Linked DNA regions of Homo sapiens. The protein of the gene in region 1 interacts with the protein of each later gene in a pairwise test. Each region holds a gene or a part of one and is shown in the gene's direction. Other genes may lie near its edges. The genes, in order: RIMBP3C and A1CF.

Region 1 (4,389 bases):
GTGGCTCACGCCTGTAATCCCAGCACTTTGTGAGGCCGAGGCGGGCAGATCAACAGGGTCAGGAGATCAAGACCATCCTGGTTAACATGGTGAAACCCCATCTCTACTGAAAATACAAAAAAAATTAGCCAGGCGTGGTGGCGGGCACCTGTAGTCCCAGCTACTTGAGAGGCTGAGGCAGGAGAATGGCGTGAACTCAGGAGGCGGAGCTTGCAGTGAGCAGAGATTGCGCCACTGCATTCCAGCCTGGGCGACAGAGCGAGACTCCATCTCAAAAAAAAAAAAAAAAAAAAAGAACATCTGGAGCCATAATTCCCGATGTTCTTGTTACTTGACACTGCCTAAAGGCATGTTCTGTGGGTTCCGGGGAAACTGATTTGAAAAACTTGAGTGTTGTAAAGGAGGGCCATAAGCTGAGTGAACACAGCAGTTGTGAGAGGTCCCAGGTGCTTCCTGGGGACAGGGAGACACGACAGACCAAGAAGCAAAGGGGCCTCTGATGTGACTTCAATATCAAGGTCTTGTCGGGCACAGTGGCTCATGCCTGTAATCGCAGCACTTTAAGAGGCCGAGGCGGGTGGATCACTTGAGGTCAGAAGTTCAAGACCATCCTGGCCAACATACTGAAACCCTGTCTCTACTAAAAAGTACAAAAAATTAGCTGGGCATGGTGGCTCAAGCCTGTAATCCCAGCTACTTGGGAGGCTGAGGCAGGAGAATCTCTTGAACGTGGAAGGTAGAGGTTGCAATGAGCCAAGATTGCGCCACTGCACTCCAGCCTGGCGACAGAGTGAGGCCCCATCTCAAAAAACAAAATCAATGTCTCGATGCAGACTGCCAGGTATCAGGTGTCCATCCATGTCTCCAAAAAGCCACTTGGCACCAGGAGCAGACAGGAAGGGCAAAGAGGAGCCAGACTGAAGCAGGGCTTCTTAGCTCCCAAGCCACACAGGTGGCCACCAGTCAGAGAGGCAGTGTGTGTGTGTGTGTGTGTGTGTGTGTGTGTGTGTGTGTGTGTGTGTATTTCTTCAGTTCAGTGTGTGTATGTATGTTTCTTCTGCAGCTCAGTGTATGTGTGTATTCCTTCAGCTCAGTATGTGTGTGTGTGTATGTTTCTTCTGCAGCTGTGTGTGTGTGTGTGTGTGTGTTTCTTCTGCAGCTCAGGATGCCTCCAACATTTCTGCTGAAGCCTCACCCTCACTCCTGGCCCATCCTGAGGCCTCTACCTAAGATGCCAATGAGTAGCCCAGACACTGGGGCTCCAGTGTTTGTCACCAGGTGGTACCTGGATGTGGGAGGTAGACAGGCCAGATGGCCAGTTTGGGCAGTGCCCCCATGCCTATCTGGCCCTGGGTCCCTATGCCACCTTGCTGGGGAGGGTCTTTTCGCTTACACCTCCTCTGAGCCGACTCTGCGCAGTAACACAAATGTGTATCAGGCACATCCTTTCCTCAAAAGGTGGATGACCAGTTGGGTGATCAGGGCTGTTAGGGGGCTGAAGGGTCCTGGGGAGTCCAGGTCTAGCCAAGTTGAGGCCTATCCTGCTGCATTTTCCAGCCACCTGACCCAAATACACCACCTGAACCCACGACCAGGTATGCCCACACCCCATGGGTGGCCTTAACACACACACCCTGCCCCTTTCTCCAAGTACAGGAGCAGCAGCCCAGACTTCCCTCGGGGCACCGCGGCCTGCTTGGGACTGCACAGTGCCTGGGAGGGTGCCTGGGGAGGGTCACAAGGGACTTGGTGCTAGAAGCAGGAAAAGTGTAGGGACCGGAAAAGCCCCCGTGCATCCTGGAAGGGACATGGGCCAGTTTGAGCAGGGGTGTGGGAGTCCAGCCCTGGCCTTGCCAGGTGGAGAGGCGCCTGGGCCAGACATCCGCGGCAGGAGGCGGGGGAACATGCCAAGAGGCGGAAGGGGCACGCGGAGACCCCCAGGGGGCGCCGGAAGGGGCGCGCCGGGCGGTCGGCGGCGGCCGTTGGCGAGCTGAGGCCTGCCAGGCGAAGTCTGGAGACCAGCCGGGCCGCGGCCGCAATGGCCAAGGACTCGCCCAGCCCCTTGGGCGCGTCGCCCAAGAAGCCGGGCTGCTCCAGCCCGGCGGCGGCAGTGCTGGAGAACCAGAGGCGGGAGCTGGAGAAGCTACGGGCGGAGCTGGAGGCGGAGCGGGCAGGCTGGCGGGCGGAACGGCGGCGCTTCGCTGCCCGGGAGCGCCAGCTGCGTGAGGAGGCCGAGCGGGAGCGGCGGCAGCTGGCTGACCGTCTGCGCTCCAAGTGGGAGGCACAGCGCAGCCGGGAGTTGCGGCAGCTGCAAGAGGAGATGCAGCGGGAACGCGAGGCCGAGATCCGGCAGCTGCTGCGCTGGAAGGAGGCCGAGCAGCGGCAGCTGCAGCAGCTGCTGCACCGGGAGCGCGATGGCGTGGTGCGCCAAGCCCGGGAGCTGCAGCGCCAGCTGGCCGAGGAGCTGGTGAACCGCGGCCACTGTAGCCGCCCGGGGGCGTCCGAGGTTTCCGCGGCGCAGTGCCGCTGTCGCCTGCAGGAAGTGTTGGCGCAGCTTCGCTGGCAGACTGACGGCGAGCAGGCGGCGCGCATCCGCTATCTGCAGGCGGCGCTGGAGGTGGAGCGCCAGCTCTTCCTCAAGTACATCCTGGCGCACTTCCGCGGGCACCCGGCTTTGTCGGGATCACCGGACCCCCAAGCTGTGCATTCCTTGGAAGAACCGCTGCCCCAGACCTCCAGCGGCTCTTGCCACGCCCCCAAACCCGCCTGCCAACTCGGATCTCTAGACAGCCTGAGTGCTGAAGTCGGTGTGCGCTCCCGCTCGCTAGGCCTGGTGTCCTCTGCGTGCTCCAGCTCCCCAGACGGCCTGCTCTCCACGCACGCCAGCTCCCTTGATTGCTTCGCACCTGCGTGTTCCCGCTCGCTTGACAGCACCCGGAGCCTCCCCAAGGCCTCCAAATCCGAGGAGCGGCCCTCCTCACCAGACACCTCCACCCCTGGCTCCCGGAGGCTCTCGCCGCCACCATCGCCACTCCCGCCGCCACCACCACCGTCAGCCCACAGGAAACTCAGCAACCCGCGGGGAGGAGAAGGCTCTGAGAGCCAGCCCTGCGAAGTCCTGACTCCCTCACCCCCGGGCCTGGGCCACCACGAGCTGATAAAGCTGAACTGGCTGCTGGCCAAGGCGTTGTGGGTGCTGGCGCGCCGCTGTTATACCCTGCAAGAGGAGAACAAGCAGCTGCGGCGTGCAGGCTGCCCCTACCAGGCAGACGAGAAGGTGAAGCGGCTCAAGGTAAAGCGCGCGGAGCTGACCGGGCTCGCGCGGCGCCTAGCTGACCGCGCCCGCGAGCTGCAGGAGACCAACCTCCGGGCCGTGAGCGCGCCTATACCCGGCGAGAGTTGCGCCGGCCTGGAGCTGTGCCAAGTCTTTGCCCGCCAGCGCGCTCGGGACCTGTCGGAGCAGGCGAGCGCGCCGCTGGCCAAGGACAAGCAGATCGAAGAGCTGCGGCAGGAGTGCCACCTCCTGCAGGCGCGTGTCGCCTCGGGTCCCTGCAGCGACCTGCATACTGGAAGGGGCGGCCCCTGCACCCAGTGGCTCAACGTCAGAGACTTAGACCGCCTGCAGCGCGAGTCCCAGCGGGAAGTGCTGCGCCTGCAGAGGCAGTTGATGCTTCAGCAGGGCAACGGTGGCGCTTGGCCCGAGGCGGGCGGCCAGAGCGCAACCTGCGAGGAGGTGCGACGGCAGATGCTGGCGCTGGAGCGCGAGCTGGACCAGCGGCGGCGCGAGTGCCAGGAGCTGGGCACGCAGGCGGCCCCGGCGCGGCGACGTGGCGAGGAGGCCGAGACACAGCTGCAGGCGGCGCTGCTCAAAAACGCCTGGCTGGCGGAGGAGAATGGGCGGCTGCAGGCCAAGACCGACTGGGTGCGGAAGGTGGAGGCTGAGAATAGCGAAGTGCGCGGCCACCTGGGCCGCGCGTGTCAAGAGCGCGATGCCTCCGGCTTGATCGCCGAACAGCTGCTGCAGCAGGCGGCGCGCGGGCAGGACAGGCAGCAGCAGCTGCAACGCGACCCGCAGAAGGCCCTGTGTGACCTCCATCCTTCCTGGAAGGAGATACAGGCGCTCCAGTGTCGGCCTGGTCACCCTCCTGAACAGCCCTGGGAGACCAGTCAAATGCCGGAGTCCCAAGTTAAAGGTAGCAGAAGGCCCAAGTTCCACGCACGGCCTGAAGACTACGCAGTGTCACAGCCCAACAGAGACATACAGGAGAAAAGGGAAGCCTCCCTCGAGGAGAGCCCAGTTGCCCTTGGGGAGTCAGCCAGTGTCCCCCAAGTTTCAGAGACAGTCCCTGCCAGCCAACCTCTGTCCAAGAAAACCAGCTCCCAGTCAAA
Region 2 (3,811 bases), on another chromosome or scaffold:
CCTTATCATGAAAAATTAGATGGCAATCCAGTGGGAAAAAACTGACACGTAAACATATAATGAAATCTGGAAGTGATATGATGAAGTTTGTTCAGAAAATATAAAAGCCACTCATCCAGTTTCTCTTAGGTTAAAACCCAAAACAAAAAACCTGATTAAAGTACTGGAATACTTAGAAATATTTTAAGAAAATAAAAAATAATAGTCGCAAATTCTGTATAATAATAGTTCCGAGAGCTGCAATAGTATGAAAAGAGATCTCTTCATTTTACATTAAACTCAAGTTAGAAATTCATCATGTCTTTTATTAGTATGTGAGTAACAATCTCTATCAATTAATAAAAGTTCTTTAATTTGTGTCTGACCTTCTACAACTATGGCTTAGAAATGAAGACCATGCCACCACCAACCAACACAGATGGGGCCTAAACAATCCCAAAGTAGAGTTGTGAACTTCCAGCCAGAAGCAGAGAGACAAGCCCTTTCCTGCAAAGTCAGCAGTGAGAGCTGGTGTTCCTTCCGCCCAGGTTTGCTCACCTGGCATAAACAAGCAGGCATAATATCTACCAGCAAAAGCTCCTTTATTATTGCCCAAGAACTGTAGAGAATGCTCTGAGGATTACAAGAGATCCTACACAACAAGAGTATTAAAAAGAAAATATCAATAGAAAAAACAGTAACAATCTACAAATTAATAAACTGGAAAATATCATGCTATTGCAGCTGGGTTAGTTAGCATAAATGAGGTAAGAAACCTCAGAGACACATCCTGAGACATTGTTCTGTCTTACAGAGTTATTTTCTCAGGCTTATGCCCTGCTTTCCACAGTCTACTGAATCTGCTGACTAACGAGAGCATCAGGACCTCTGGACAACCAAAAATGGCTTCAGAATAAAGAAACTATGAATCTTTAGAAAATATTCAGTTTGGAGTAATTACAGAAGAAAAAACATGCAGGAGGATGCTAAAAAGCATATTGTCATTAAGCAAAAAAACAAACAAACAAACAAAAAAGGCAGAAATAGTGTCTTACCAAACAAATAAAAACATTGCAACTGTCAACACCCATCTAGGAACACTCGATAAATACCAAGCATTAAACTTTTTAATTCTATTTTTATGAAATTGTGAGATTAAAACCCTATGACAAATGTCACGAAATAAAAATATATTCTTAGGCTATCATCTCTAAACCATTATAAACACAGAGATTGAGAGTAATAATGAGTAAATCTATACAAATCTATACACACAGTGTTGGAGCAACAATTTTTACAAAAACAAATATTCCAAACAAATCATAAAATTAAGCTTTTGGTAAAAAGTTACAGCTAATAGACTAAACTAAAAACATATTACAGTAAATGGTGTGAAAGTGATTTTATGAACTAATAGACCTAACATTTTAAATGGAGTTCAAATTGAGTTCATCTTAAATTTTATGAGTCATTAAATCATGTGGCATTTTATGTCTTCAGATACTAGCTTGAACTCTGAAAATTAGAGTTTAAAAACCTGAAAACTTGGGAAATAATGTGAATGTGTCATTTGAGGGGGAAATAACTTTTTTTATTCTTGTAGATATTAGAAGAGATTTGTCAGAAAAATAACTGGGGACAGCCAGTGTACCAGCTGCACTCTGCTATTGGACAAGACCAAAGACAGCTATTCTTGTACAAAATAACTATTCCTGCTCTAGCCAGCCAGAATCCTGCAATGTGCGTAACTTCTCCAAATTCCTTACCATTTTAGAGCAGGATACACTTATAAATTAAATGCATTTAGTCACCATCTAAACAAGATACTGAGGTCTACTACCTACTCATTTGTCATTCAATGCAAATATTGAGATGTGTAGTTGGGATGTGCCAGCCATGAAACCAGCATATAAAGGCCCCCAAATTTCATATACACAATGAAGGTTGTGTAGTATCACCAGCCAGTGGATAACAGTCAGTAGTGTAAAATGTAATAGAAATAAAAACTATAGCCCATTCTTGGCTGGATCACTTGAGGTCGGGAGTTTGAGACCAACCTGGCCAACATGGTGAAACCCCGTCTCTACTAAAAATACAAAAATTAGCCGGATGTAGTAGCCGGTACAGGCAGGCGCCTGTAGTCATAGTTACTCAGCAGGCGCCTGTAGTCATAGTTACTCAGCAGGCTGAGGCAGGAGAATCACTTGAACCTGAGAGGTGGAGTTTGCTTAGATTGTACCACTGCACTCCAACCTGGGCAATAGAGTGAGACTCCATTTCAAACAAACAAAGCTATAGCCCATTCTTTCATCTGTGCAGTGTTTAGGTTGAAGCATATGAAACTACCATTTTATACATAATAAGACAATGGCCCATCATTTAATTTTGGACCAAAGATATGACCTCTCTGTTAGTGGATATCACCTCCTGAATTTTACCTTGAGCCTGCATTTCTATATATTTTAGGAACAATTTGTTTCACTTGTGCTTTAGAAAAGCCATGTAGTGAATTACTTGTATGTCCCAGGAATGTCATCAACCACTGATGTTCTAGATCAATTTGTAAATATTTCTACATGCAACCTATATTTAGAAGCTTTAATAGCAAACAGAATGAAAAACACCCACTCAAAATACCACCATCCAGTCATCTTACAAAGCTGATAGTGCCTTAAGTTTTCACCTGACTCAGTTGTACCAGTTTAAAAATGCCTACCCTGACTGACTTGCTTTCCAGCCACCCTTTCACACCTCCAAAGCTGAGTGCCTTTGTGGATGAAGCAAAGACGTATGCAGCCGAATACACCCTGCAGACCCTGGGCATCCCCACTGATGGAGGCGATGGCACCATGGCTACTGCTGCTGCTGCTGCTACTGCTTTCCCAGGTATGGGAAAATTGTGCCAGAAATGGCGCCCTGCAGAGAGTATTTGGGAAACCCTTTTTTGGTACCATTGAATCACAGAAATGTTTGTGTACCCTACTTACAGCAATCTGACTTGCACAACCTTGGGACCAAAAAGAGTTTCCCAAATGAGTGACTCATTAAAACACGAGGCAAGAAAATCAAGCTGGGCAGCAGAGTGGGTTCTGGTCTCGGCTCAGCTTTAAACTGCTGTGTGATCTTGAATGAGTCAGTCTCTCTGAGTCTGGTTTGTTTTGGTTTTTACTTTTAGTACGAGAGTTTGAAACTACCTATAGATATATGATGTTTATTGGAGATCTTACTGTGTGCTAGGCACTCACTTAAATGGTCAGGAAGCGTTATAATATCTTAGTAATACTCATGATACCACCAAGAGTTAGGTTCCATCAGAAAGTCTGGTATACAAATGAAGAGCCCATATACAGAAAGATTAAGTAATTTGGCCACTGGCAATTAGCTTTTCAGCAATCTTTTCTCCCTCTCCAGTCTTCAATCTACTTTTATTAATTTGATTTCAAAAAAGATTTTTTAAAGTCAAAAATTTTGTGAGAGTGAGAGACAGACAGAGATCCTTTCAATATGTGAATAATCAGGACTCAACTCAATTTATTTGTTCTATAATTTTGGTCTGGGGCATATGCTGATTGCTTAAAGCAAAGCCTATCCGTGGATCAACAATGCCTTCAGAGGTCACATTTTAAAAGATTTGTCCCCATTTGTTATGTACCCACAACAAATGGTAATAATTAAAACTGAATCCTTTAGAGATTGAAGGGGACCAGGCAAGAAAGTTGTTTAGGAAATTTTTTCTCAGCTGAAAATTTTTTATCCTTTTTTTTTTTAGTAAAAGATTATTTTTATTAAAGAAATCTGTCATTTTTTACTTCTCATTGTGTCAGCGTGTGCC

The links.
Region 2: the proteins of RIMBP3C (region 1) and A1CF interact in a two-hybrid assay, tested with the Homo sapiens proteins (one large-scale study listed by BioGRID).

Annotation. Positions count from the first base shown.
Region 1 is NC_000022.11:21,548,626-21,553,014, reverse strand, and holds the start of RIMBP3C (RIMS-binding protein 3C), read left to right. Parts: upstream 1-1,553; 5' UTR 1,554-2,038; coding exon 2,039-4,389. Other genes in the region: UBE2L3 (ubiquitin-conjugating enzyme E2 L3), read right to left, coding at 3,365-3,565.
Region 2 is NC_000010.11:50,808,948-50,812,758, reverse strand, and holds part of A1CF (APOBEC1 complementation factor), read left to right. Parts: intron 1-1,582; coding exon 1,583-1,719; intron 1,720-2,716; coding exon 2,717-2,865; intron 2,866-3,811. UniProt on the Homo sapiens protein: Essential component of the apolipoprotein B mRNA editing enzyme complex which is responsible for the postranscriptional editing of a CAA codon for Gln to a UAA codon for stop in APOB mRNA.